Homo sapiens: one gene and its partners. The protein of the gene in region 2 interacts with the protein of the main gene of each other region in a biochemical or structural test. Each region holds a gene or a part of one and is shown on either strand. Other genes may lie near its edges.

Region 1 (3,500 bases), on a different chromosome or scaffold from region 2:
TATTTTTTGGACCATTTATTAGTTCTTAAGATGGTAATGCCAGGCTTAATTTTTGTAGTAGATGGAAAATATTAATTTGTTTTTTTGGGCACTTGTTTTCCTCTTCTGAAAGAAATAAAGAAAAGAAAGAGAGAAAAGAAAGAAAGAGAAAGAGAGACAAAGAGAAAGAAAGGAAGGAAGGAAAGGAAGGAAGACAAGAAAAGAAAAAGAGAGAAAGAGAAGAAGAGGGAGGGAAGGAAGGAGGGAGGAAGGGAGGGAGGGAGGAAGGAAGGAAGGAAGGAAGGGAAAGAGAGGGAACGGGAGGCCAGGTGAGGCTTTTTTCTCCCTCTTTCAGGGGATCGTGAAAATTTTTATTTGTCATTTATTTTTGTTTACCTATTACTCTACTGTCTCTTTATACTTTAACATTGGATGAGATCGTCTAAGTGAACTAGTCCAGTGTCCCATCCGATGTTGAATGAATCTCTTCTGCCTTGTCTCACCAGTTTGCACACTCCTGAGCCAGGGAGCTTACACCCTTCTCAGGCAGTCCATTGCATCTTTGCTCGGCTTTCTCTCTCGGAGCTCTTGCTCCCTCGTGAACAGTACCAGGTGAATGCTTTTTATCAGCTGCAGGGCCACCATTGCAGATATAGGGGGCTACCACCCACATGCAATTTAGTACTGTTGAATTACATGGTATATTCATGATGTCTTTCATGTAAATAGCACCCCTATGGTCGCAGCCATGCTCTGGTGAGGCTCAGAACACAGAATTTTTTCTAGAAGAACAATAGAGCAAGGAAGAGAACCATAGAGCAGCTTCCTCCCAGGACCACAGGGGAGGATGGGCCACACAGCTCCCAAGGTTGCCTCTGCCCACCGCACTTTTGCATCCTGGTGACTGTCTTACACAGCCAAAAGGCACTGTGCTGGCAGATCTGAGTTCAAGCCCTGGCTCTGCCTCTGTTTTGCCTTGTGACCTTAGAAAAGTCTAGTCCTTCATACCCTAAACCAGGGGTTGACAAATCTTTTCTGCAGAGGTGCAGACAGTAAATATTTTGGGCTTTTCAGGCTATATAGTTTTTGTTGCAACCACTTAACTCTGCCATTGCAGTACAAAAGCAGCCTAAAGGAATGTGCATGACTGTCACCCAGAAAACATCATTTACAAAAACAGGTGGCAGGCCAGATTAAGCTCACAGGCTGCATACTTTGACAGTCCTTGTCCTAAGCTGTAAAAGAGAAATGACAATACCATCCCTGGCTATCTCATAAGACCATTATGATGATCAAATTAGTTTTCTTTGAAATCTATCAAGTGCTATACAAATGTCAGTTATTTTCTGTAAGTAATATTTTTTGTCAATCACAGTGCTAAATCCTTAACTTAGCAAAATGTGAACCGCAAAGACACTCTAGGAGAAAACTGAAATTTAGAGACAATATCAGTTAGGATGCTTACAAGAGCACGTAATAGAAAACTAGCTTAAATAATACAGGATTTTATTAGTCCATGTGACTGCAAAGTTCAGAGGTGGGAGAGAATTCAAGGCATGTTTGATCAAGGGCTCAAAACAAAACAAAACAAAACAAAACAACATTTCTTCCCATCTCTCACCCTGCCTTCCATGGCATTAGCCACATCCTATGGCTGGCTTCTCTTGTAGTCACAGCCTGGTTGCTATCCTTGAGCTAATGGCCAGAGAGAGAGAGAGATCTTCTCAGCATTCATAGCAGAAGTCTTGAGATTTATTCTGATTGGACTGGCTTAGATCACGTGCCCACCCGTGAGCCAAATCCTCTAGCTCTGTAAAGAAGGAATGTGCCAATTGGCTTAAGGCAGTCAAGGCCCACCCCTGGGAATGAGATCAGCTTGCCACATGGCACATGTGCAGCCTGGGGAAGAGTAGACACTGAGGTGAAAACCATGCTGTTTTTAGGGAAGGGGAGTATTGCAGGGGGTGGTAACAATAAATGTTCACCGCAGAGAACGAAGCCCCTGAGTTATGCCACCTTCCTTGTCCTAAGAAACTGCACAGAACTTTCTATCCCACTGTAAGCTGTCCAAGCTTTTCAAACTGACATTTCCTGTTTAAGAAAAGGCCAATTTGAGCTCACTGTCAAATACCTCAGTGTATTTAAAGTATATATGTACCTTCCTTTTACACAATCAATATGTTTTCCAAAAGTGCTTATGAATTAAAAATTTGTAACTCATATAATAAATATACTGGAAGACTCAGTATTTTTTTTAAATAGCAAAATTTCTGTAAAGCAAAGAATCTTATAGCAAAAGTAGTATTTCTTCCAAATTGTCCTAATCTATCTGTAGTAATGAGTTCTGTTTCTTACAATCATGTTTTAAATGCTTGGATATTGACAAATTTCCAGACAACCAATACTCCATGGATTTTAAAAGGTCTAAGTGGTTCTTGACAGGTGGCCTCTAGACCAGCAGCATCAGAATCCCTTGGTGACTTGTTGGAAATGCATGTTCTCAGACCCCGTCACAGATGAGGGTGGGGGCCCAGCAAGCTCTGGTGTAACAAAGTTGCCAGGTGATTCCGATGCAAGTTCAAGAACCACTCATTACACTAATGAAATAATACAGGAATAGGAATTGGAGAAGGTTATCTATCTAAAGCCCAGTCTTTTAACCCCTAAAATTCTTGAAATAATTTGTCCTTTTGTCCCTTTGAATGCTTCCTGTCTTATGTATACAAAGTATTTCTTTTTCAATAAATTGATCTCTCTTCAGTTTATAGAATGAAGGGCAGGCTATCTGTAAGTGAGGATTGTACTTTTTTTTGACTTGCTGTATAGTTCTCCAATTTGTGAAATCATCAAATTAAGTGAAAATAACATAAAAACTCCCTCAATGTTTTCATCCATGTTTAATGCCTCTAAACAAACTGAAACATTTTACCAGTTATCAGAGATTAACTCATTAAATATCTACTTTTAATTCCCTGAAAGTAAAGTATATTTGGGTCTTTTGCAGAAGAAAGAGCATATGAGAATACACCATGAATATTGTTTTGCTCTCAAGTTAGTAGTGTTGTTGGCAAGAAGAGAATCTTTGGGATTTCTTTGGCACTAGAAGTAGAGGAAGCCCATTTGGACAGATTATGTTCAATAGGAATGTTGTTAGAATTCACATAAGCAACCACAACTTTCATACTGAAAAGCTCATTTCCAATATGTTCTTTGAAGCTTAAATGTGACCATTTGTCTTGAGTATAACATTTAAACCTTGAGAGTGCTGATTTCTCCATTGTTTTGTAAAGTTACACCCAGGAGGTTTATGTTTAAAGTTCTTGCAAAAGGCATGTTGCAAAATTAAAAAACAGAAATTAATGTGTATATATTTTTTATTTCAAAGATCTTTATGAATACACTAAGATATCTGCAAACTCATGAATATCTCCTAGATGTGGATTTATGGAGACTTTTTGCAAACCTGGAGGAGTTAACTCAGGTGAGCCAAGTAGGAAGATTCATGTTTTAACATTCACTAG
Region 2 (3,500 bases):
TCTTTAGAGCAAAATGGAAAAAAATGGTTTTTCTGTTCTGGTGCAGGATCCAGCGGAGGCTCACGTGCTGTATTGGATTATCACATCCTTAATGTTCTTTAATCTGAAATCGTTCCCAAGTCTTGTTATTCATGACCCTGACTGACATTTTTTAAGAGTAAAAACACTAGGGGGGATTTTTTGTTGTTTTTTGTTTCGTTTTGTTTTTTGTTTCGTTTTGTTTTTTGTCTTTTGTTTTTTTTTGAGCCAGGGTCTCACTCTGTCACCCAGGCTGGAGTGCAATGGTGCGATCTCAGTTCACTGGAACCTCCACCTCCCAGGCTCAAGTGATCCTCCCACCTCAGCCTCCCAAGGAGCTGGGACTACAGGCTACAGCCAACATGCCCAGCTAATTTTTGTATTTTTTGTAGAGACAGGATTTCGCCATGTTGCCCAGGCTGGTCTCAAACTCATCCAATCCGCCCACCTTCACCTTGACCTCCCAAAGTGGTGGGACTACAGGCGTGAGCCACTGCACCCGGCCAAAGACCCATTCTTTTATAAAATGTCCCTCCCTCAATTTGGATTTATCTGATGTTTTCTCATAATTCGATTTAGGTTCTGCATTTGGGGCAGGAATAGCAATGAAGTAATGATGTGTCCTCTGTGTATCATGCAAGGAGGTTTACAAAGTCTACTTGTGCCGTTACTTATGATGCTAATTTTAATCACATGGTTAAGGTGTCTGCAGCCTTATGCTTTCCCAGTTTCCCTGGTTTACTAACCATTCCATTAATGAATTTACAAAGTAAGCAAAATGTATATTTCCCAAGTCAGTTCCTGACTGTTTTCTCCTAAAATAAATCCTTGCGTGCTGTTGTCAACCTAAACTATGAAATGCTCTAAAATAAATCCTTGCGTGCTGTTGTCAACCTAAACTATGAAATGCTCTGGGATTCTGTCCTGTGCTGTTGGGGTGCATCAAGATGCCAAACCCACGAACCAAGTATTTTGTCAAATGAACTGAGTCTTCAGGGACATTGAGGCATGTCTGCATTTAGCTCAAAAGGTAGAAGTCTCACAAAACTGATACTAGCGAATATCATGTTACTGAAAATTCTTGGTTATTCAGGCGTTCCTAGCTATGTATAAGTGCTTCCTACCTACATACAACGTCTTTCTTCTATGCACATCATCTCAGGTACCAAATAGACAGTATTATTTAAAATCCCCCTTTGACATTTTATGCTCAGTTTTTCAGACCATGGAAATCTACACCTATGATGCTCTTCCAAGATCACTGGGCATTTTTTTGTAGTTTAGTAAGTGACTTATTTAATTTGCAATTCTCAATTATTTCATTTATATGTAAACTTTTTTACGAGACACAAGGTTCCACTCTGTCACCCAGGCAAATGGTACAATCCAATGGTACGATCATAGCTCACTGCAGTTGTGAACTCCTGGGCTCAAGAGATCATCCTCCTGTCTCAGCCTCCCAAGTAGCCAGGATTACAGACACACACCACCATGCCCAGCTATTTTTTTTTTTTTTTAAATACACAGGGTCTCACTATGTTCCCCAGGCTGATCTCAAACTCCTAGCCTCAAGCAACCCTCCCACTTCAGCCTCCCAAAGTGCTAGGATTGCAGGCATGAGCCACCATGCCCAACCATAAACATTTTCTTTCTTTCTTAAAAAGTTAGTTACTCATGCTTAGTGCTGTCTAGCGATACTTTGTTTTTGTTTGTTTGTTTGCTTTATTAACTAATCCCTCACAGACCTCAGGGGCTTCAGCTATTCCCAAAGAATTAGTTGTTAGTAATTGTTACTCTTTTTTTCACACATTATTTCAGACAGCAAATAAACATTGATTGTTAAGTCTCTAACCACTAACAAGCTAGCTTAGGTATCTCTCAATTCACCTACACTACAGTACCTGACATGCTAGCTTAACTGAAAAAAGTAGTATCAATCTGTAATCAGCTCTTTTCCCCCAAGATCCTACCCCAAAAAAAAAAAAAATTATCCTTACATCATCCTGTCTATGGGATTGTACCCAGTTTCCTTTTTTCTACATATGTTTATGGAGAAATCAGGAAAGTTAAGAAAATAATTTGTTTTAAAATAATAAAGCTAATATATGCTCAGATGGTAAAAGAACAAAAGAAAAGATCTCCAAGTCTTACTTTTTGATCCATTTTTAAGATAAAAATTTTATACTATATAAATAGGAAAATTAATGAAGTGAGCCTTTTTTCCTAAGTGAACAGTGTGTAAATGGTGATTCTTCCTGGATGAGTAACTTTTTCAAAGATACTAGCTTCTACTATTTCATCAATAATTGTAATGGCAAAAATAGACAATTAATGGAGATTTCTGATTTTGTTTCTATCATTACAGCTATTGTACAGGGGGATACGCTGGAAGACATTTACAACCAAGTGAAACAGATCATAGAAGAACAATCTGGTTCTTACATCTGGGTTCCGGCAAAAGAAAAGCTATGAAAACTCATGTTTCTCTGTTTCTCTTTTCCACAATTCCATTTTCTTTGGCATCTCTTTGCCCTTTCCTCTGGAGTCTTTCTTGAGTACTGATTTCATGTTGAATTGTATCCCACACATCATGGTCTGCAGCTTCTTTTTCACATGTAGTGTCTCCTTCAAGTTACATCGTGTGTATTATTTAATGTCACTATTGGTTAGTGGCCATTTTTCAGAACTGAAGATGGAATGGCCTGACCAGCTATTAAGAACGTGGGGAGACGCAGAAATTGTGGTAAAATTCCTTAATGTTTAAGGGAAAGTAACTTTAAGAGATTTTTGGAAAAGCTTTATATACATTCTTTTCAAATTTCAGTACAAATGAAAAAGTGGTTTTAATCAGTGATTTAGTAGACTTTGAGCAACTGTGCACGCTTCAGTTTAATAGCATGGTTTGGCCAGTGTATTACTCTCAAGTCCTTTTCTCAATCAACTTCTATCATCAAAGCAATTGTTTCATTATAGATAAATAAGGACATTTTTTAATTTAAAAATTCATGTCTGAGTTGACTTTCATAAGGGATTTCATTTTTTCCTCAACATTCTTAAAGCCTTTTAGTATTTGACGGTTCTTTTTTCCCAGGACATTTGCTAGGAATAACAACGTTTCAATGTTTTTAATCTACTTGAGCAACACTATCGTGTCTTACAAAAGTTGTTCATATGTAAATGATCATCACATTTCGTGAATTGAGGCCATGTTCAGGTGCTAAGGAAGTTCGCCTTTTACACAGAAGATTGAGAAAATTTCCTAGATATAAATACAGATAAATCAGACGTTACAGTGGTGACGTAGTAACCATCATGGCAATGGAAAGGAGTCCAATTCATAGCCTAAAACTTCAAATGTATTCTTAGGAGTCAGATTTTACTGAATATTTTACCCACAATAGCTGCCTATTTTGTTATAATAAAATATATATAAATATATATATAAAACTTTCTTTAAACTGTAACTATGGGAATTATTTTCT
Region 3 (3,500 bases), on a different chromosome or scaffold from region 2:
CTGCGCCTCCGCCCACAGTGGCACCGCCCCTCGCCCCCGTAGCTGAGCAGGAGTCTGAGTCCTGCAGGAAGGCGCGGCGGCCACAGCAGCCCCAGGGAGGCCGTGAGAGGACGCGTGAGGGCCCGGGGCAGACCACCCCAGGCTCTTCAACACAACAGATGAGAACGAAGTCCTTGTTCCAGGCGACTCACTGAGGAAATGCTCCGATAGACTCGGAGAGGGCTGGACACAGAGTGGACCCCACTCTCTTGGCTTCTCTCGCGGATCTGGGTTTGCAACAATGGCTCGTCGGAACTGTGTAGAGCGTTCAGGTTTATTTTAGACCCTGGGTCAATGTCTTGGAGGAAAAGCCATTGACTCTCGTGGAAGAATCCTGGGGACAAGAATCTGGGGCGTCGCTCACGCCCTGTTAAAACTTCAGTTCTTCTACCCACATGGGGCATTCTCCACCTCCCAGCAGCAGATAACTCACTGGATAACCTGATGTCGGGATTTGGCCGGGAAAACATGCTTTTCTGTGACTTTGGAGCTGTTTGCACGTGGCAGGAAGTGGGCGCCTACTAAACCAGCAAACGTGGGACAACCAGCCTGGCACCGCCCGAGCCACGCCAGAGCCCCCATGCATCGTCTCCTGATGGCAAGCACTCCAGTAGCCAGAACACCAAGGAGGGACGTGCGAATGTCCACAGTTGGCCGGGCTGTCCCTGGGCTGATCTCTGGGGGAAGCAGGAGCCCCAGCTGGAGCTCGGACCGGACACTCACCCCACGACTGTTGCAGGAGGCAACTGACGCTTCGGGCTCTGGGGCACTCAGGAGAATCTGGACAGAGGCCCACCCAGCTCACCTCTTTACAGAGGGGCAGAGTGAGGGTGGGGCTCTCCTGGGCCCTGACTCCCCCGAAAACCCTCAGGGGCCTCTGTCCAGGGTGGGCCTCAGAGCCAAGCCTGAACCACAGGGCGCTGTCTCTCTGTGGGGTCCTGGTGTCCAGGAAGAAATGGGCAGATTCTAAACACTCCCCGGAAAGCAAAGTGTCTGCTGTCACTCCAGCTCTGCGGCCCCACAGCGACGCCCGCTCCTCTCCCAGGTGCCTTCGCCCTCGCACAGGTCCAGGCTCCTCGTCCCGGGATGCAGGGCCCCTCCGGTGCCCGCCTGGCCAGTGCTGTTCGAACCCTGGGGCAGGGGCCCTATTTCGGGCTTTGACTGTCAGCCAGTCCCTTGGCTCCCCAGAGCACCCTCTGTCCACGGTGGACACTCTCTAGCCAGCCAGGGCCTCGTCTTGGCTGGACGGACAAGAAGTGTGGCCTCAGGAGGGAAGCAGGAGCTCTCGGGCCCGCTGGCTGCCTGCATCCCGACACAGGTGACACTGCCTCTGCCCATGGCCCTTCCTGCACAGGAGGGTCCCTCTCCACTTCCCGCCTCACTCAGCCGGAGCCATCCCAGAGGCCCGGCCGGCTGCCTCCTCCTGCCCCGATGCCCAGGGCAGCATCCATGGCGTGGTCAGAGTGGCTGGAGCCTGGCACAGGTGCAGCGATCACCAGGGGGCTGGGGAGGGGCCAGGCGGCTGCAGCCCTCACCCCTGCTGGCACCCACCCACAGGGTTCTTACCGGAACATGGCACCCACCCTGCTCGCCTGCCTGAGGTTCATAACTAAACCCTACACAGTGGGGCCCTGAAGCACAGACATGTTTCCCACAGTCTGGAGGCTGGAAGCCTGAGACAGAGCTGAGTGCAGGCTGGTGCCCCGAGGCCCCCTCCTGGGCCTGTGCACGCATGTTTCTGGGCTGATGCCCCTGAAGCCCCCTCCCCAGCCTGTGCACCCCTCTGTGCTTCCCCGGTGAGCTCACCTCACTCACCTGATGAAGAAAAGATGAAGCTCCATCAGCTCCAAGCCTTTCCAGCTGGGTCGATTTTCCCCCAGTCTACTCTGCCACAGAGAACACACATTCCCCTTTGAACTCTGACCCTGAACCCTTTTCTTGGGCCGAGAAGCAGGTGGAGTTTGCGGCCTCCGGTCCAGGTCTGTTGGTGCCGAACAGTCTCCACTCTTTCTCCACCTCTCGCAGAAGCTCGTACAGAATCCTCCCGGAAGATGTTGACAAGCAGGGTTTCGATGAGTGTGGGGCTCCCAGTGCAGGGCTGGGGCCATCCCATGGTTTCCCTGCCTCTCTGTAAGGCCCATCCAGATCCCACCTGGCCACCCGCAGGCCACGGGAAGAGAGGAGGCTGGAGGCAGGCATCAGTCGGCCGATACATGGCCCCAGGAGCCAGCCTCAGAGCCACACAAGGATGCCTTTGGCCAGCAGAGCCAGTGGAGGGCGAGGACAGACAGCACTCCGTGGCCACGTGGGGCCCCTCCCGTGCACTCCCTGAGCATCCACAGACGCAGCCTGACCGTACCTCCCCAGGCAGCCCCCCTTCCCTGAGACCCCACACGAAAATGCCTGGAGCGGCTGCAGGGGAAGCCGAGCCCCAAGGGTAGGCTCAGGCGACGGCGCCGCCCACACAGACCCACCAGCCAGTCACACACGTCTCCTTTGCTTTATCCTCAGGATCTGAAGACAGTGCTCTCCCTGCCCCGCTACCCAGGGGAGTTCCTGCACCCCGTGGTGTACGCGTGCACGGCCGTCATGCTGCTCTGCCTCCTGGCCTCCTTCGTCACCTACATCGTGCACCAGAGGTGAGCCTGGCATGGGCAAGGGCGCCCCCTGTGCCCAAGAAACCTGCTTTTACCTTCAAAGGCAAGTCCCTGAAGGGCAATGCCACTGCCCCCTCATGTAGCAAGAAGTCCTTGAAGGTACAACTCAGGTCACCAGCTAGCTCAGACCCGCTCAGCAGCCTGGTGCCCATCACACAGCCGAAGGGTGGATGGAGCTCAGGGAAGCCGCGCCTGTCCACTCAGGCCTCCGTCAGGGTCTTCTCCACGGCATCCCCCGTGTCCTTAACTGGGCAAAATAAGTTCTTCCAGAAATAGGTGTGGTGTCCGTCCAGGCACCCTGAGGAGCTCAGTTCCCCCGGGCAGTCACTATGGCCTGCAGAGCCTGGGAGAGGCACCAAGAACATGAGGGTGTCCAGCCGCAGTCAGGGTGGGCATGCCCACAGCCAGTCATGGGCGGGGGTTCGGCTATGTCTGAGGCCAAGGTCGCCTCGGTCACGGACAGAGCTTAGAGGCGCCCAGGGCCACAGTCTCATCAGAGACTCGGGCACACACGAGGCTGTGATCACAGGAAGAGGCTTGGGCGGTTCCGAAACTGTCATCTTGGTCTGTTTGGGCTGCTGCAGCAGAACACGGGGGCCTCGATGGTTTATCGACAGGAGAAACTGACTTCTCAGTTCTGGAGGCCGAGGTCCCAGATCAAGGCACCCATGACGCTGTGTCTGGTGCGTCTGGAGAGGGCCAGCTCCAGGCTCACAGACGGCACCCACTGCCTGTGTCCCTGCCTGTGTCCCTGCATGTGGAGGGTGAGGCACTCTGGGGGCCTCTTTCTCAAGGTCCCTGATC
Region 4 (3,500 bases), on a different chromosome or scaffold from region 2:
ATGTAGTTTCAGGGGTGTGTTGGGCTGAGCTCCAAAAGAAACTGGATAGGATCCCAGGTCTGGTGTATCAGCAATTTCCAGGCACTCAGGAGAGGAAGAGATCTTGAGTCAACCATCCAGCCTGCTCCTTAAAGGGCGAGCCTGTTAGTGTCCATTGGTGGGGACCCATAAGTCATCAGTGGCCACGTGAATCTGGACTTGGAACTCTGACTCCTTTCCAAAGAACTTTGTACCACCTCTGCTGTTTTCCTGGTTTCTAGCTGGTGGGGATGCTGTGCCCAGGGAGTGGGTCCAACTCAGGTCAGGACTAGACCTGCTTGGATTGCCTAAAAACCTGTGTCTTCCCCATGGAGAGAAGCCATGTTCTGTTCATTCTTCAATCTCTATGACAGTGGCAGCTATGTGACGTGCCAGGTTTTAATGCATTCATTATCCCATTTACACCTTACCAATTATCCAGAGAGGATAGGTATTATCCCCAGTTTAGAGACAAAGGGTCATAGATTAAAGAAGCTATCCAAGATCACATCAGGTAGTAAGCATGGAGCTCTGGAACTTAACCAAGAGCTCCGCTGTCTGACGCCCAAGCCCAGGTTGTTAACCACTGCACCACTTTGCCACCAGGAAGGCTGCTCTGTACGCATGGAAGTTTGGGAGGTTTCGAGGAGGTGATGCAGATGGACATTTTATCTCTAGAGGAAGAGAGGAAAGAGGGAATTTTTTCCTTCCTGTCTTTACCTGAAATACTTACTTTCTCATATTGATCACTATTGAAATGGAGTCAGACAAGGCCTTGCATCTCATGCTACGCAATCAGTTTTGGGTTTCAGCCCAGCTCTACCACTGACTAGCTCTGACTTGGACAAGTTATTAAATGCATCTGAGCCTCAAGTTGCCCATCCGTAAAATGGGAATAATGTTACCTACCTCACAGATTTTGTGAAATTGGTATGATGTAGGCACATCTAAAGGGTTAAGCCCCCAGAGGCCAGCCATAGTAGATGCTGATAAAAATACCAGTTGTTATTACCGTATGTAAAATCTTGTGTAATTTTCTTTCAAGTGACTGAACTGGCCTTTGCTTAAACACTTGACTTCTCAGGAAACAAAAAGCTAACTCCGGGTGTGGGGTAAATTGAGAATTGCCTGTGGCTGGCCCCTGTCCCACGCACCCTTCCCTGTTAGGGATCTGGCTGAGAGTTTCCATTCCGTTCTTATTCCAGGGCAGGAAATGGAAACACAGGAAGCAGATGGTTGGCATGGGAAAGGCTCCCAAAGACACAGCCACTGTCACCCAGCCCCTTGTTTCCCTCTCAGTCTCTAAGGGCTCCCATTTTTCCAACCATCACTAGCTTTTCTGCCACCTTCAGAGCCCTGTAAATGCTGTGACTGCCAGAGTCTAACCAGCGGTTCATTTTAGTTTTGCCTCAAGGTGGATGGTCTCTGGTTCCCCCTTGACTAGAAATCTGGGGTGTGGGTAGCCTCCCAAAAGGATGGCTCTGTAAGCGGGTCTCACCAGCACCTTCAACAAACCCCCGTGTGAAGAAGGTCAGAGGCGGGGAAGCCCCTCTGCTTGTGGCCTGACAACATTTTTTATCTAAAGATTCTGAGTAGGTAGTGGTTATTTTCATTTCTAAAAAGCATACTTTTTTGTGGAGGTGGAGGTGCATTTTAACATCTCTAAAACCTGGGTGCATCTTAGGATCAACAGTGTCTTAGGTTTGATGAAATACACCATATAGGCTAGGCTTGGTAGCTCATGCCTATAATCCCAGCACTTCAGGAGGCTGAGGTAGGAAGATCGCTTGAGGCCAGGAGTTGAAGACCATTCTGGGCAACATAGCAAGAACTCATCTCTACCAAAAAAATTATAAAATTAGCCAGGCATGGTGGTACATGCCTGTAGGCCCAGCTACTCGGGAGACTGAGACGGTAGGATCTCTTCAGCGTAGGAATTCAAGATTACAGTGAGCTATGATTGTGCCGCTGCACTGCAGCCTGGGTGACGGAGCAAGACTCTGTCTTTCCAAAAAGGAAAAAAAAAATACACTATGTAAAATGTCAAGGCTGTAAAGGAGGACACACACCATGTTGAGTCCTGGTCCATTTTATCTGTAAAGAAAGCAAGACTGTCCCAAGGCATAGGAGATTGCCCTGGTACTCTCAGGGCAGCTGTAACTTCAACACAGGCCTGTCAATTTTTCCCATATTACCACATGGCTTCTCATCCTTGTCAGCGCAGGAAGGCTGTCGGCATATCCTGCCTCCTGGATATGTGCAAAAAAGTGAACTCTTTGCTGTGTGGATTTTGCTGTCATTGAGTCACAAGGCAGTCACATAAGGTAGAGAGTTGGCCAGGATGGAGATACAACCACACTTGGTTGAACTGCCCTGGCTCTGAACTCCACTTGGAAACCAGAAAGGGAACCACCCATCTTAAGAAACAAATAGGTCGGAGTTGTTTTTTCCTCTCTCAAATGAACAAGCTAATCCAATATTTCCTGATTGTCCTTTGTCCCTGCATCCAGGGTGGCCCAGTTGAAATCCTTCCCTTCCTCTACCTTGGAAGTGCCTACCATGCATCCAAGTGCGAGTTCCTCGCCAACCTGCACATCACAGCCCTGCTGAATGTCTCCCGACGGACCTCCGAGGCCTGCGCGACCCACCTACACTACAAATGGATCCCTGTGGAAGACAGCCACACGGCTGACATTAGCTCCCACTTTCAAGAAGCAATAGACTTCATTGGTAGGTTTAGCCATTCCCCTTCAGTTATTTTGGGAGCCCCTTTGGGGCATGTGTTCTTGACTTTTGATGCCCTGATGGAAGCTACCTTCACTGAAAGAAAAGTGTCTTGTATATGCCGCTGCTGAGAGTTGGAGCCAACATGGGATGCAGCTACCAAAAAGGTGGAAGGGAGGATTTAAGTTGCTATGAATAGGAGCTTTAATTTGCAAGATAAATGAATTAATATAATTTTATGGCAGTACTCACTGTCGATCTTGTTATTGTTTCTAGCTGGGCAGGAGCTGAGTGTATCCCTGCGTAATGCTCCACACAAGGAAAGCAGGGGGAAGAACCTCCCTAACTGTGCTTCTACGTAGGTTGGGTTTATTTTTAAAAGCAAACAGAAGGATTCAGAGAGCACTACTTACGCACTGAGCCCCAAGGGCCCCCAGCAGCTTTCCATACTCTTGGTGAACGGCTTGGGGCAATTTGTTTTGCATTTTCAGCTAATTTTGGATTAAAGATAGCACTTGACTCAAGCTCCATGCTGTATGCACAGAAAAGTTGGCATCTTTTGCCTGCTTTCTGCATTCTTGTTACGCAGTTATTTATTCCATTGCATAGACCTGAAAACCGAGGCCTTGGCCTCTGGTCCCTCTGCCAGGAAAGGGCTGTGGCCTTAGGGTTTCCAGGTCCTCTGTGTTGCCTGGATTGTTCTCCCATTTGGCATCTTCTCCTCCCCCATCCATCTTCCTAGGAGGCTGGCCTGACTT
Region 5 (3,500 bases), on a different chromosome or scaffold from region 2:
CAGTACAAATTATTCTACTGTCCAAAGACCATGAAGAGACTGAGGGAGAAAAAGTTCAGAGCTGATTGCCCTCTTTTAGTTTTCACTTGGCGTTTCTATTATACCTTGCACACTATCTCTATACCACAGGAATTGTCTCCATGGCTCTGTGCTCCAATCTTCTCCACTCTGCTGATCACTCCAAGGGGAACATCAAGGATAAAATGCGGGTCCTAGGTTCAAAAATTAAGATCAATGCCTATTAGTGTCAGTCAACAGTTTTCATATTTTAAGTCTTTGCTGGGTTACAAAACATGTTTGTTTACTTCGCATTTCCTCTTTGTCCCAGCTAAATTGAAGTCTGATTGACAGCATTCCTTGTGAAATATATATTGAGACAACAATGGAATTTCCCCTCCAGGTTTAAGCGGTACTTTAACAGCCTTTGTTTTCAAGATACAAACATCTGTTTGCAAATGTGTGCATCTCAAAATCCAACCTGTGGTTATCTCAGGGTAATGGGATTTCAGGGGACTTTTTACTTTCTTCTTTTAGTGTTCTTTTAAAAGTGTTTCTTTTAAAATAAAACACACTTTAAAAAACTCACCCTCTCGACATTTTTGAAGTACAGCTTAAAGTCCGTCACTGTCAGGGTTCCACTCACTGCTCCCATAAATGGGCAGATATACATGACATCTTTCACTGAAAGAAAAAGGCCAAAGTAGCAACTACTGCCATAGACTTGTGCTTCCATAAAACTTAACACGAGTTTTCCAAATATATATTTGTGATTCCAGTTTTCCAGGAATTTTGTATTTTATAGGATTATATCAATTATGACTTTCAATATAGAGAGATGCATAGTCTTCTAATAAATTTCAATTTTTTAAAACAAAATTCTGATTTGCTACTTAATGAGGTTTTAAGTAAAGGGCCTCATAAGAAGTTATATTCTGTCATTTTTCCTAGGTAGTTAACATTTTCCCTGGGTGATAAATTAATCATATTCAAAACATTAATTAAACTCTGAAAACCCTGGGCTACTGTTTCATGAATTACTGCTACTTAAAACTAATGAAAACTAAAGATTGTCTCCTAATGCATCTCCAAAGGAAACTCTTTTTACAGAAGACAAAACCTAGAACCACATCAATGAAATGGAAAAAGACTTATTTCAAATTCCTTATCCCCTTATCAGTTTTAATTTTTTGTCAATATCTATTAAGTGCGTGACATATTTAATTCCCATTAGTGTTAAGAAGCTCACTTCTATCACAAAGATACCACATCTTCATGTTTTCCCAAAGTGCCATTCCACTGGAATGACAAGAATATACATAGCTATATATGAGTCCAAGTGAGACAACAAAAGGCATTAACGTCATTGAACCAAATTCTCAGAATACTTCCATTGAACTTTTCTATACTCCTTATGTACTGAGAGCCTTCTATTGCTGGGATTCTGGGTATAATTGGAAGAAGTTCCTGTCCATGAGCAGCCCATGACCTGTGAGAGATACCACACAGAAAAATCGCCATTATACTAGAGCAGAGGTCCCCAACCTTTTCGGCACCAGGGACTGGTTTCATGGAAGACAACTGTTCCATGGACCAGGGCAGAGGTAGGGGGATGGTTTCAGGATGAAACTGTTTCACCTCAGATTATCAGGCATTAGACCCTCATAAGGAACATACAACCTAGATTCCTCACATGCGCAATTCACAACAGGGTTCACGCTCCTGTGAGAATCTAATGCCACCGCTGATCCGACAGGAGACGGAGCTCAGGCGATAATGCTCACTAGCCCGCTGCTCACCTCCTGCTGTGCAGCCCCGTTCCTAACAGGCCATGGACCAGTGCTGATCCACGGCCCATGGGTTGGGGATCCCTGCACTAGAGGTTGACAAAAGCTAAAATAACAATGTGGACACAAAGTATTACAATGGAAGTTCAGAAAAGGATCAACTTAACTCAATAGGAAAGTGGGTAGGGGGAGTAAGAGAAGGAAGGGAGGAAGGGCACAGTGATAAGTTGTTAGAGGTTAGTATGCCTGGATCAATGGGTGCAGTGAGGACAGTCGAATATGAGGCCAGAGAAGTTGGCAGGGAGTGGATTGGCAAGTGCTTCTGTAGGAGACTAAGGCATTATTATCATTATCCTTAAAAGATAACTGTTTAAACAAAAACAAAAACAATATATTGTGGGGTTTATAACATATGTAAAAGTAAAATGGATGACAACAACAGCATAAAGGGTAGGAGGGGACAAATGGGAGTATACTACTATAAGGTTCTTATCCTGTACATGAAGCAGCATACAATCATTTGAAGGTAGACATAAAGATGTAAAATAACTAGTTACATAACAAAACAAACAATTATAGCTAATATGCAATCACAGGACATAAAATAGAATTCTAAAAAGTAAAAACCCCATAGTCTCGACCCAAAAGCTCCTTCAGCTGATAAACAACTTTGATAAAGTTTCAGGATACAAAATCAGCATACAAAAATCACTAGCATTCCTATACACTAACAACAGCCAGGCCAACAGCCAAATCAGGAATGCAATCCCATTCACAATAGCCACAAAAAGAATAAAATACCTAGGAATATGGCTACCCAGGGAGGTGAAAGATCTGTACAATGAGAATTACAAAATACTGCTCGAAGAAATTAGAGATGACATAAACAAATGGAAACACATTCCATGCTCATGGATAGGAACAATCAATATCGTGAAAATGGCCATACTGCCCAAAGCAATTTATAGATTCAATGCCATTCCTATCAAACTACCAATGACATTCCCAGAACTAGAAAAAAACTATTTAAAAATTCATATGGAACCAAAAAGAATAGCCAAGGCAATCCTAAGCAAAAAGAACAAAGCTGGAGGCATCATGTTACCAGACTTCAAACTATACTACAGGCCCACAGTAACCAAAACAGCATGGTACTGGTACAAAAACAGACACACATAGACAAGTGGAACAGAATAGAGCGCCCAGAAATAAGGGTGCACACCTACAACCCTCTGATCTTCAACAAAAGCAAGCAATAGGGAAAGAATTCCTTATTCAACAAATGGTGCTGGGATAATTAGCTAGCTATATGCAGATGACTGAAACTGGATCCCTTCCTTACACCATATACAAAAATCAATTCAAGATGGATTAGAGACCTAAATGTATAACCCAAATCTGTAAAAACCCTGGAAGACAACCTAGGCAGTACCATTCTGGACATAGGAACTGGCAAAGATTTCATGATAAAGATGCCAAAAGCAATCACAATAAAAGCAAAAGTTGACAAATGGAATCTAATGAAACTAAAGAGCTTCCGCACAGCAAAAGAAACTATCAACAAAGTAAACAGCCTACAGAATGGGAGAAAATATTTGCAAACTATGCATCTGACAAAGGTCTAATATCCAGCATCTATAAGGAATTTAACAAATTTACAAGAAAAAACACAAACAACCCCATTAAAAAGTGGGCAAAGGACAAGAATAGATACTT
Region 6 (3,500 bases), on a different chromosome or scaffold from region 2:
GCCACTCTGGGTCTCTGGTCTGCAAGGCCACCTCTGCTGGGCCATCTAAATGTCTACAGTGCAGAGGCTACCTGTCTCTGGAGGCAAGAAGGTGGCCAGGCTGAGGTCCCCAGGTGTCCCTCTAAGTGTGGTCTGCTCAAGCTGTTTCTCTGCAGTGGCTGGAGGCCATCCCACGGAGGAGTCCCAAGACCACCAGCTGCCTTCAGCACCCACCCTTCGCTCCTGGGACAGCCTGGGGATATGGAATCACAACCTGACACCCAGGAGGTTGAGGTTACAGGATGAAGGCAGCCCGACAGCACCAGTGATTAGGGAGGTTGAGGAACCTCCTCTCTACAGGATGGGGAACGAGTCTGATGTGAAGATAGAAAGCAGATGCACTGACTGCCTTCAGCTCAAAGCCCTGGGTCTGCTCCCCGCCCTCTGACCCCTAGACATACTGCCCACCCCCTCCAAGGACCAAGGGCTTGGGATCTCCTCCCCAGTAGCAGGTGAGCTGGTCATGTCTCAGGGTCACTTCAAGAACTCAGGAGGCCAGGCCCCAGGAAGAAGGGATTGGGAGAGAGGGAAAAAGAACATTTCCTTCAGGTATTGACCTGCTCCCAAGGCCCAGGAATTCCCAATGTCAGCCACAGAGATTTCTTCTGAGGAAAAAGGAGCTGGGAATCTCCAGCCCCCAAAGATGATCCCAAGGGGAATGAGACTTGGGCAACCTCAGTGTCACCTAAAATCCTGCCTCTGCCCTATTCCAGGACTGTGTTCTGCCCACTGTCCTCCCTACCAGGTGAGCACAGTGGGCAGCAGAGGTTAGAATAGAAAACCTGCTCACCCCTGTCCTGGAGAACTCTCTCCTGGGGTCCCTGCTCCATCCCTCAGCCTTACTTCTTGTCCCTTGGGCTTTCTCCATCTACTCTTCCCATACTCCTTTCCCAAGATCTAGGTGACGCCATTCTACAGGCTGACACCAGAGGGCACAGAGTGCCCACATCTCGAGGCTCCAGGAATACTCAGCTTTGCTCACACATACCCCAGGCCCAGCCACCACCACCACCCTCCTGCTCCAGACTCCCAGCGGGCCTGACTGGCTGGCGGCAGCTCCAGAGGAGCTGGCCAATTCCCATCATACAGCCCAGGTCACCCCCCACTCCTCTGGAGATAAGGAAGGAGAGGCTGCTGCTTCCAGAGGGATCTCTATACTGAAATTCCTGAAGGTCCTACCTTAAGACACTAAGCCAAGCTAAGTGTAACACAAAACACACTCCCCGATCTGATGGCTGTCTGAGACCAGGTTTCCAAGCCCTCCCCCACTCCGTGGAGCCTCCAGCCCCTCAGGAGCAGTCTGAAAATGCCCGGTCTGGACCACCGCATCCCCAGTGCTCACCCGCTCATCCCCTCGTGTGGACTCATTGTCCAGCAGGGGCTCCCCGGGAGCCTGGATTGTCACCGACTTGTCCCCTCGGCCCCCATCTCGACTCTTAGAGCGGTGTCGGTCCCGGCGGTCCCTGCGGCAGGAAGCCAGAAAAGGCACAGAAAGTCCAGTGGTGGACCAGGGTCTTCTCAGCAGCCACTCTACCCTACCACCCCTGCACGTGCCCACCTCTTAACAGCCCCCAACCCTCCCTCCGCCACGCATGTCACCCTGCATGCCTGCCCACCTGTGCTTGCGGGAGCTGCGGGAGTGGCCCGACTTGTAGGAATAGCCCGAGTACTGGGACTCGGTGTCCATGGCGTCTGAACGCCGCGCCTTGTAGCGCTCCAGGGCCGCAGGCTGGGGCCTCTTGGGGGGCCCCACAGCCACCTCCTTCAGCACCGGCTTCTTTAGGCCAAGAGGCACCTTCAGGAAGTCAACTGTCACCCTGAGGGACTCTATTTTGCTGGACGGGTGGGCTTGTCTCAGAGAAAATCCAGCGACGCTCCTGGTGAGAGGAAGAAGCTAGTTAGAGGCGGCTCGAGCTCCCTGTGGGGTCAGGGCAGAGGAAGACCATCTGCACACAACAGCCACAGGAGGCTCAAATGAGCCCAGCCATAGCCTGAGAATATCTCCACCCAGGTTCCTGCTGTCCACTGGGCCCAGTTCCTCCTACCCTTCTCTAGAAAGAGCCCTGCCAGGCTGTGCCAAGGACTCAGGCATGGGGGAAGATGGCCAGCAAAGGCTCCCAGGGCAGGAAGGCTCACCCAGAATGACCCAACCCCAAGCCCTCTGGAAGGGAGGAGCAGGGCATTGCTTCCCTATTCTCAGCCAGGGAAACCGAGGCATGAAGAGGGCAGGTTCTGGCCAGGCCAACAGGCTGAATCAGTGGACACCTCAGAGAGCAGAAAGGAGCGGGCTTCTGTCCAGGGGCTACCCCAGGCCTCTTCTCCCCATGCTACACCTCCTCCCCTCACTCATACTTTCTGAGTGTGCCCACAGTGGGCTGCTTCCCTTGATACCATCTCCCCAGCATTTACTTCAAACACACCCAGTGTTACCGGTAAGATCAGGCTGGCAGCTTCCTTGAGGTTGCCACACATATGCACAGCCCCAGGTGAGGGTGAGGGGTGGAAACTATGGATAATATGGTAGGGGATGGGAGGAGAAGACAAGTTTCTACTTGCCTGAAGTTCTGAAACAGGCAAGGCACAAGTTTATCTGCCTATTTATAGGCTTATCTTCAACCATACTTCACCTTCTGATTCTGCAGAGGAGAATGACCTCTCCTCTCTCTAACCCCCACCCAAATCCTGCTCATTCTTCAGAGCCCGGCCCCACCCCCTCATAGGAGCCCCCACCTACTCTAGACCCAATGTTATCTTCCCTGCTGACCCTGACTCCCCTAACAGCCATCACCATCCACCGAGCGCTTACTTCCTATCTTCAGTCATTGACGCATCAAATCTTGTTTGAGCACCTTCTATGAACCATGTATTCTGCTAGGTATAAAGTGGTATAACAGACCCTGAGTTTACAGTCTAGCAGGGAAGGGGCACACCAAACAAGTAAGCAGATAAGTATAAACGACCGATTGCAGGCATGATGGAAGGGCAGAACAGCAAACTATGAGAGACACCCATGGAGTAAGGGCTACCACTTTAAACTTAGCGGTTCTAGAAAGTCTGAGAAAAGGACACCTCAGCAGAGGCCTGAAGAAGAAATAGGAATTAACCAAGCAAAGAGTGCAGGAAAATGCCCATGGAGCAGAGGAATCACATGTGTGAAGGCCAAAGGCAGGAAAGAGCTTGTTGTATTTAAAGAACCAACAAAGGCCAGTGGAGCTAGAGTTGAGGAAGAGAGTGGGTGGTAGAAGGTGGCACTGCAGAGACAGCCAGGCACCAGGTGAAGAGCTTGAGCTTTATTTTATTCTAAGGCCACAGGAAAACTTTGAAGGATTTTAGCTATGCAGATATGGATTGAAAAGAGGGAAAAATAGAAACAGGGAGATCAATAAGGAGGCGACTGCAGTAGTACAGGCTTGCTAAGGGTAGAGCCACAGAAGAGTGAGTAACAGTCATGTTTGAGACTT
Region 7 (3,500 bases), on a different chromosome or scaffold from region 2:
AGAGATGAGGACCTGGGGGGCATGGGAGTGCAGGGAAACCTGTGGGCATGGATGGAATACTTTTCTGTTTGGGGGACACAGGCAGAACTGACGGAATTTTTCCCTTGGGGTCCCTATCTGCCCCCAGCTGGAGTGCTCCTCCCACCCTAAACCCAGCCCCCTGTCCTATTCCTAGGCACTGCCCTGAGGGTTATGAGTGCATCAAGACCGGGCGGAACCCCAACTATGGCTACACCAGCTATGACACCTTCAGCTGGGCCTTCTTGGCTCTCTTCCGCCTCATGACACAGGACTATTGGGAGAACCTCTTCCAGCTGGTACAGCTGCCCCCACCCTGCCCCCCAACCCTACAGCCACTCCCCCTCCATCCCTGCAGCCTCTTCAGGGCCTGATGGGGCCTACCACAGGATGGCCAACCCCCGAACTGGGCCATCTCCTCATGGACTCCCGCAGTGCCCTTATAGGAGCTTGTGCTCTCTGAAACTAGACACCTGCCCCGAGCCAAGCCACAGCTTTAATTCTTTCCACACCTTTGCTTTCAGAGCCAAGGTCTGGACCTAGCATAGGCACAAGCCCAGGACCCCCTAGGCCTCATGATAGCCAGTAGGGCAGCTTAGAAATCCAATGCTGCCTGCCGGGCGCGGTGGCTCACGCCTGAAATCCCAGCACTTTGGGAGGCAGAGGTGGGCGGATCACGAGGTCAGGAGTTCGAGACCAGCCTGGCCAACATAGTGAAACCCCATCTCTACTAAAAATACAAAAATTAGCCGGGTATGGTGGCACGGGCCTATATTCCCAGCTACTCAGGAGGCTGAGGAGGGAGAATTGCTTGAACCCGGGAGGCGGAGGTGGCAGTGAGCCGAGACCACGCCATTGCACTCCAGCCTGGGCGACAGAGCGAGACTCCGTCTGAAAAAAAAGAAAGACAGAAATTCGATGTTGCCCATACTTTATTTGCCTTCTACTGTTTGCAGGGAAGGCAGGCTGAGCCTGGAGTGACAGTGCCTTCTGATGCCATGTGATGTTTCTAACATTGATGGTGTTGATAACAATAACAAAAATAATAACAGCTACTGGCTGGGTGCAGTGGCTCATGCCTATAATCCTAGCACTATGGGAGGCCGAGGCAGGCAGATCACTTGAGGTCAGAAGTTTGAGACCAGCCTGGCCAGCATGGCGAAACCCATCTCTACAAAAAATACAAAAATTAGCCAGGTTTGGTGGCAAACACCTGTAATCCCAGCTACTCAGGAGACTGAGGAAGGAGAATCACTTCAACCTGGGAGGTGGAGGTTGCAGTGAGCCGAGATCACACCGCTGCACTCCAGCCTGGGCAACAGAGTGAGACTACGTCTAAAAATAAATAAATAAATTGATTAAATAATAATAATAGCTACTATTTGTTGAGTTCTTACTAGGTGCCAGGCACTGTGGCAAAGCTAGAATTCAAGCTGACCCCAAACCCATGTTCACCAATTTTCTATCCTGGCTCTCTGATAACAGGATGCCTGGCTTCGGTCCTCCTCTGAGCCAGGAGACCAGAAACGTTTGAGTCCCAAGTAGATATTTTGAAGTTCCCCAGAACATGGCTCAGCATGCCAATGACGGCCATCAGTCCCCCAGGCTCTGTGAGGGAGGGGCTCTGCTTACCCATGCGGGCAATGGATGTATGGAAAGGGGCACTGGGTCAAAGGAGGTGGACGTCATGGGACCCCTCCACTCCCTCTCCCTCCACTCCCAGACCCTTCGAGCAGCTGGCAAGACCTACATGATCTTCTTCGTGGTCATCATCTTCCTGGGCTCTTTCTACCTCATCAATCTGATCCTGGCCGTGGTGGCCATGGCATATGCCGAGCAGAATGAGGCCACCCTGGCCGAGGATAAGGAGAAAGAGGAGGAGTTTCAGCAGATGCTTGAGAAGTTCAAAAAGCACCAGGAGGAGCTGGAGAAGGTCTGGACTCAGGGAAAGGAGATAGAGGACCCAGGGTTCTACCTGCCCTCAGCCGGGGCTGCCACTGGCTTCTCCCTGGGGGGCCGAGGGTGAGGGAGGGTACAGGGGTAGGGGTTTTGAGGCAGAAGGAGCAGAAGGCCCTGGGCTGGGAGCTTTGCTGGTGGCAGGGGGATGGAGGGATCCAAGCAGTAGAAAAAGCATTTCTCTGCTCTGTGCCTCAGTTTCCCTGTCTATAACAAGGAATCTGGAGTAGCTAAACCTGAAGTATTCTTCCAGCTCAAATATTTCTGATTTTGTGATGCTTTCTGGGTAGTGGATAGGTCCATACTGAGGGAAGGGCAGGTCCTGATGAGGCCACAGGGAGCGGCTGACCAGTTTCTCATTCTGTCAACAAGTGGAGGGTTAGTCAGGGCATCAGAGTCAAGGGTCTTCAGGGCAGAGGGTCTTTAGTCACTTTGGTCCCTACCCTGTCACCCCCACCACCATGGAGGTTGGTCCCTCCCCCACCTGCACTAAGTTTGACACAGGCCAGGAAGAGGGGCTGCCACCCTGAAGGACTCTGGAAGAAGCTCTGAGGGTCAATTAGTCCATCCCTCTGGCTCAGAGCTGGACTTCCTGCCAGTCACTCTTGCTGGTCTACAGGCCAAGGCCGCCCAAGCTCTGGAAGGTGGGGAGGCAGATGGGGACCCAGCCCATGGCAAAGACTGCAATGGCAGCCTGGACACATCGCAAGGGGAGAAGGGAGCCCCGAGGCAGAGCAGCAGCGGAGACAGCGGCATCTCCGACGCCATGGAAGGTGAGTGCCTTGTGCCCCCGTGCCCACTTAGGTAGGGGTGGAGCCTGGCTGGACTGGATTCAGGAGGATAGGGATGCCATGGAAGGTGAGTGCCCTGTGCCCCCTCTACCCATTCAGGCCCCTGAGGTCAGGGTGGGGCCTGGCTGGACCAGCTTCAGGACAGTAACTTAATATTGGCATAGAAGAAATGGCTATATTTATACTATATTTATCACAGCCATTTCTGGCTGTCACAAATATAGTCCTGTCTTAACCTGGCCCAGTTCTAGCTGCAAGGCCAGGCTGCTATGGGAACTGGGGGCTTCCGGGAGGGCCTTGGGGACTGCCCAATGGGAAGCACAGGCTAATAATACTAACCAGAAGGCCCAATGTTCCGGAAACTGGACATCCTGCTCCTCAAGTGTTCTCTGGGTAAAAGTTAAAGGCCAAAAGTCAAATTCTGCCCAAACAGAGTGACAGACTCCCCAATCCCTGTGCCACATGCTGAATCTCAGAAGAATAAGGATGTCATGATGAGAGAGGGTGAATAGACACGACACGACAGATGGATGGACAGATGGATGGACGGACGGATGGATGGATGGATGGATGGATGAGAGGGAGGGAAGTAGGGAGGCAGGAGGGAAGGAGGAAGCACAGGAAAAAGGGACAATAGAGAAAAGGAATTCTGACACACAGAGATGTGGTTCCCTCCCCAGGTCGGCTTGCCTTGTGCCAGGGAGTTGGGGGCCCTGCAGGACTTTGCAGATCTCT

What was found.
Region 1: the proteins of DLG1 (region 2) and PLEKHG7 interact in a test that uses a peptide from one of them, tested with the Homo sapiens proteins (one large-scale study listed by IntAct).
Region 3: the proteins of DLG1 (region 2) and ADGRA1 interact in a test that uses a peptide from one of them, tested with the Homo sapiens proteins (one large-scale study listed by IntAct).
Region 4: the proteins of DLG1 (region 2) and DUSP5 interact in a test that uses a peptide from one of them, tested with the Homo sapiens proteins (one large-scale study listed by IntAct).
Region 5: the proteins of DLG1 (region 2) and MTMR1 interact in a test that uses a peptide from one of them, tested with the Homo sapiens proteins (2 studies listed by IntAct, with this or other methods).
Region 6: the proteins of DLG1 (region 2) and VANGL2 interact in a surface display test, tested with the Homo sapiens proteins (one large-scale study listed by IntAct).
Region 7: the proteins of DLG1 (region 2) and SCN4A interact in a test that uses a peptide from one of them, tested with the Homo sapiens proteins (one large-scale study listed by IntAct).

What each region holds. Positions count from the first base shown.
Region 1 is NC_000012.12:92,737,489-92,740,988, forward strand, and holds part of PLEKHG7 (pleckstrin homology domain-containing family G member 7), read left to right. Parts: coding exon 1-33; intron 34-3,364; coding exon 3,365-3,460; intron 3,461-3,500.
Region 2 is NC_000003.12:197,043,613-197,047,112, reverse strand, and holds part of DLG1 (disks large homolog 1), read left to right. Parts: intron 1-2,383; coding exon 2,384-2,490; 3' UTR 2,491-3,500. UniProt on the Homo sapiens protein: Essential multidomain scaffolding protein required for normal development. Recruits channels, receptors and signaling molecules to discrete plasma membrane domains in polarized cells.
Region 3 is NC_000010.11:133,094,424-133,097,923, forward strand, and holds part of ADGRA1 (adhesion G protein-coupled receptor A1), read left to right. Parts: intron 1-2,550; coding exon 2,551-2,678; intron 2,679-3,500.
Region 4 is NC_000010.11:110,504,407-110,507,906, forward strand, and holds part of DUSP5 (dual specificity protein phosphatase 5), read left to right. Parts: intron 1-2,528; coding exon 2,529-2,748; intron 2,749-3,500. UniProt on the Homo sapiens protein: Dual specificity protein phosphatase; active with phosphotyrosine, phosphoserine and phosphothreonine residues. The highest relative activity is toward ERK1.
Region 5 is NC_000023.11:150,724,396-150,727,895, reverse strand, and holds part of MTMR1 (phosphatidylinositol-3-phosphate phosphatase MTMR1), read right to left. Parts: intron 682-3,500; coding exon 587-681; intron 213-586; coding exon 105-212; intron 1-104. UniProt on the Homo sapiens protein: Lipid phosphatase that specifically dephosphorylates the D-3 position of phosphatidylinositol 3-phosphate, generating phosphatidylinositol. Could also dephosphorylate phosphatidylinositol 3,5-bisphosphate to produce phosphatidylinositol 5-phosphate.
Region 6 is NC_000001.11:160,414,064-160,417,563, reverse strand, and holds part of VANGL2 (vang-like protein 2), read right to left. Parts: intron 1,917-3,500; 5' UTR 1,727-1,916; coding exon 1,656-1,726; intron 1,503-1,655; coding exon 1,382-1,502; intron 1-1,381. UniProt on the Homo sapiens protein: Involved in the control of early morphogenesis and patterning of both axial midline structures and the development of neural plate. Plays a role in the regulation of planar cell polarity, particularly in the orientation of stereociliary bundles in the cochlea.
Region 7 is NC_000017.11:63,962,919-63,966,418, reverse strand, and holds part of SCN4A (sodium channel protein type 4 subunit alpha), read left to right. Parts: intron 1-175; coding exon 176-317; intron 318-1,741; coding exon 1,742-1,951; intron 1,952-2,210; exon of another isoform or gene 2,211-2,335; intron 2,336-2,593; coding exon 2,594-2,747; intron 2,748-3,104; exon of another isoform or gene 3,105-3,154; intron 3,155-3,500. UniProt on the Homo sapiens protein: Pore-forming subunit of Nav1.4, a voltage-gated sodium (Nav) channel that directly mediates the depolarizing phase of action potentials in excitable membranes.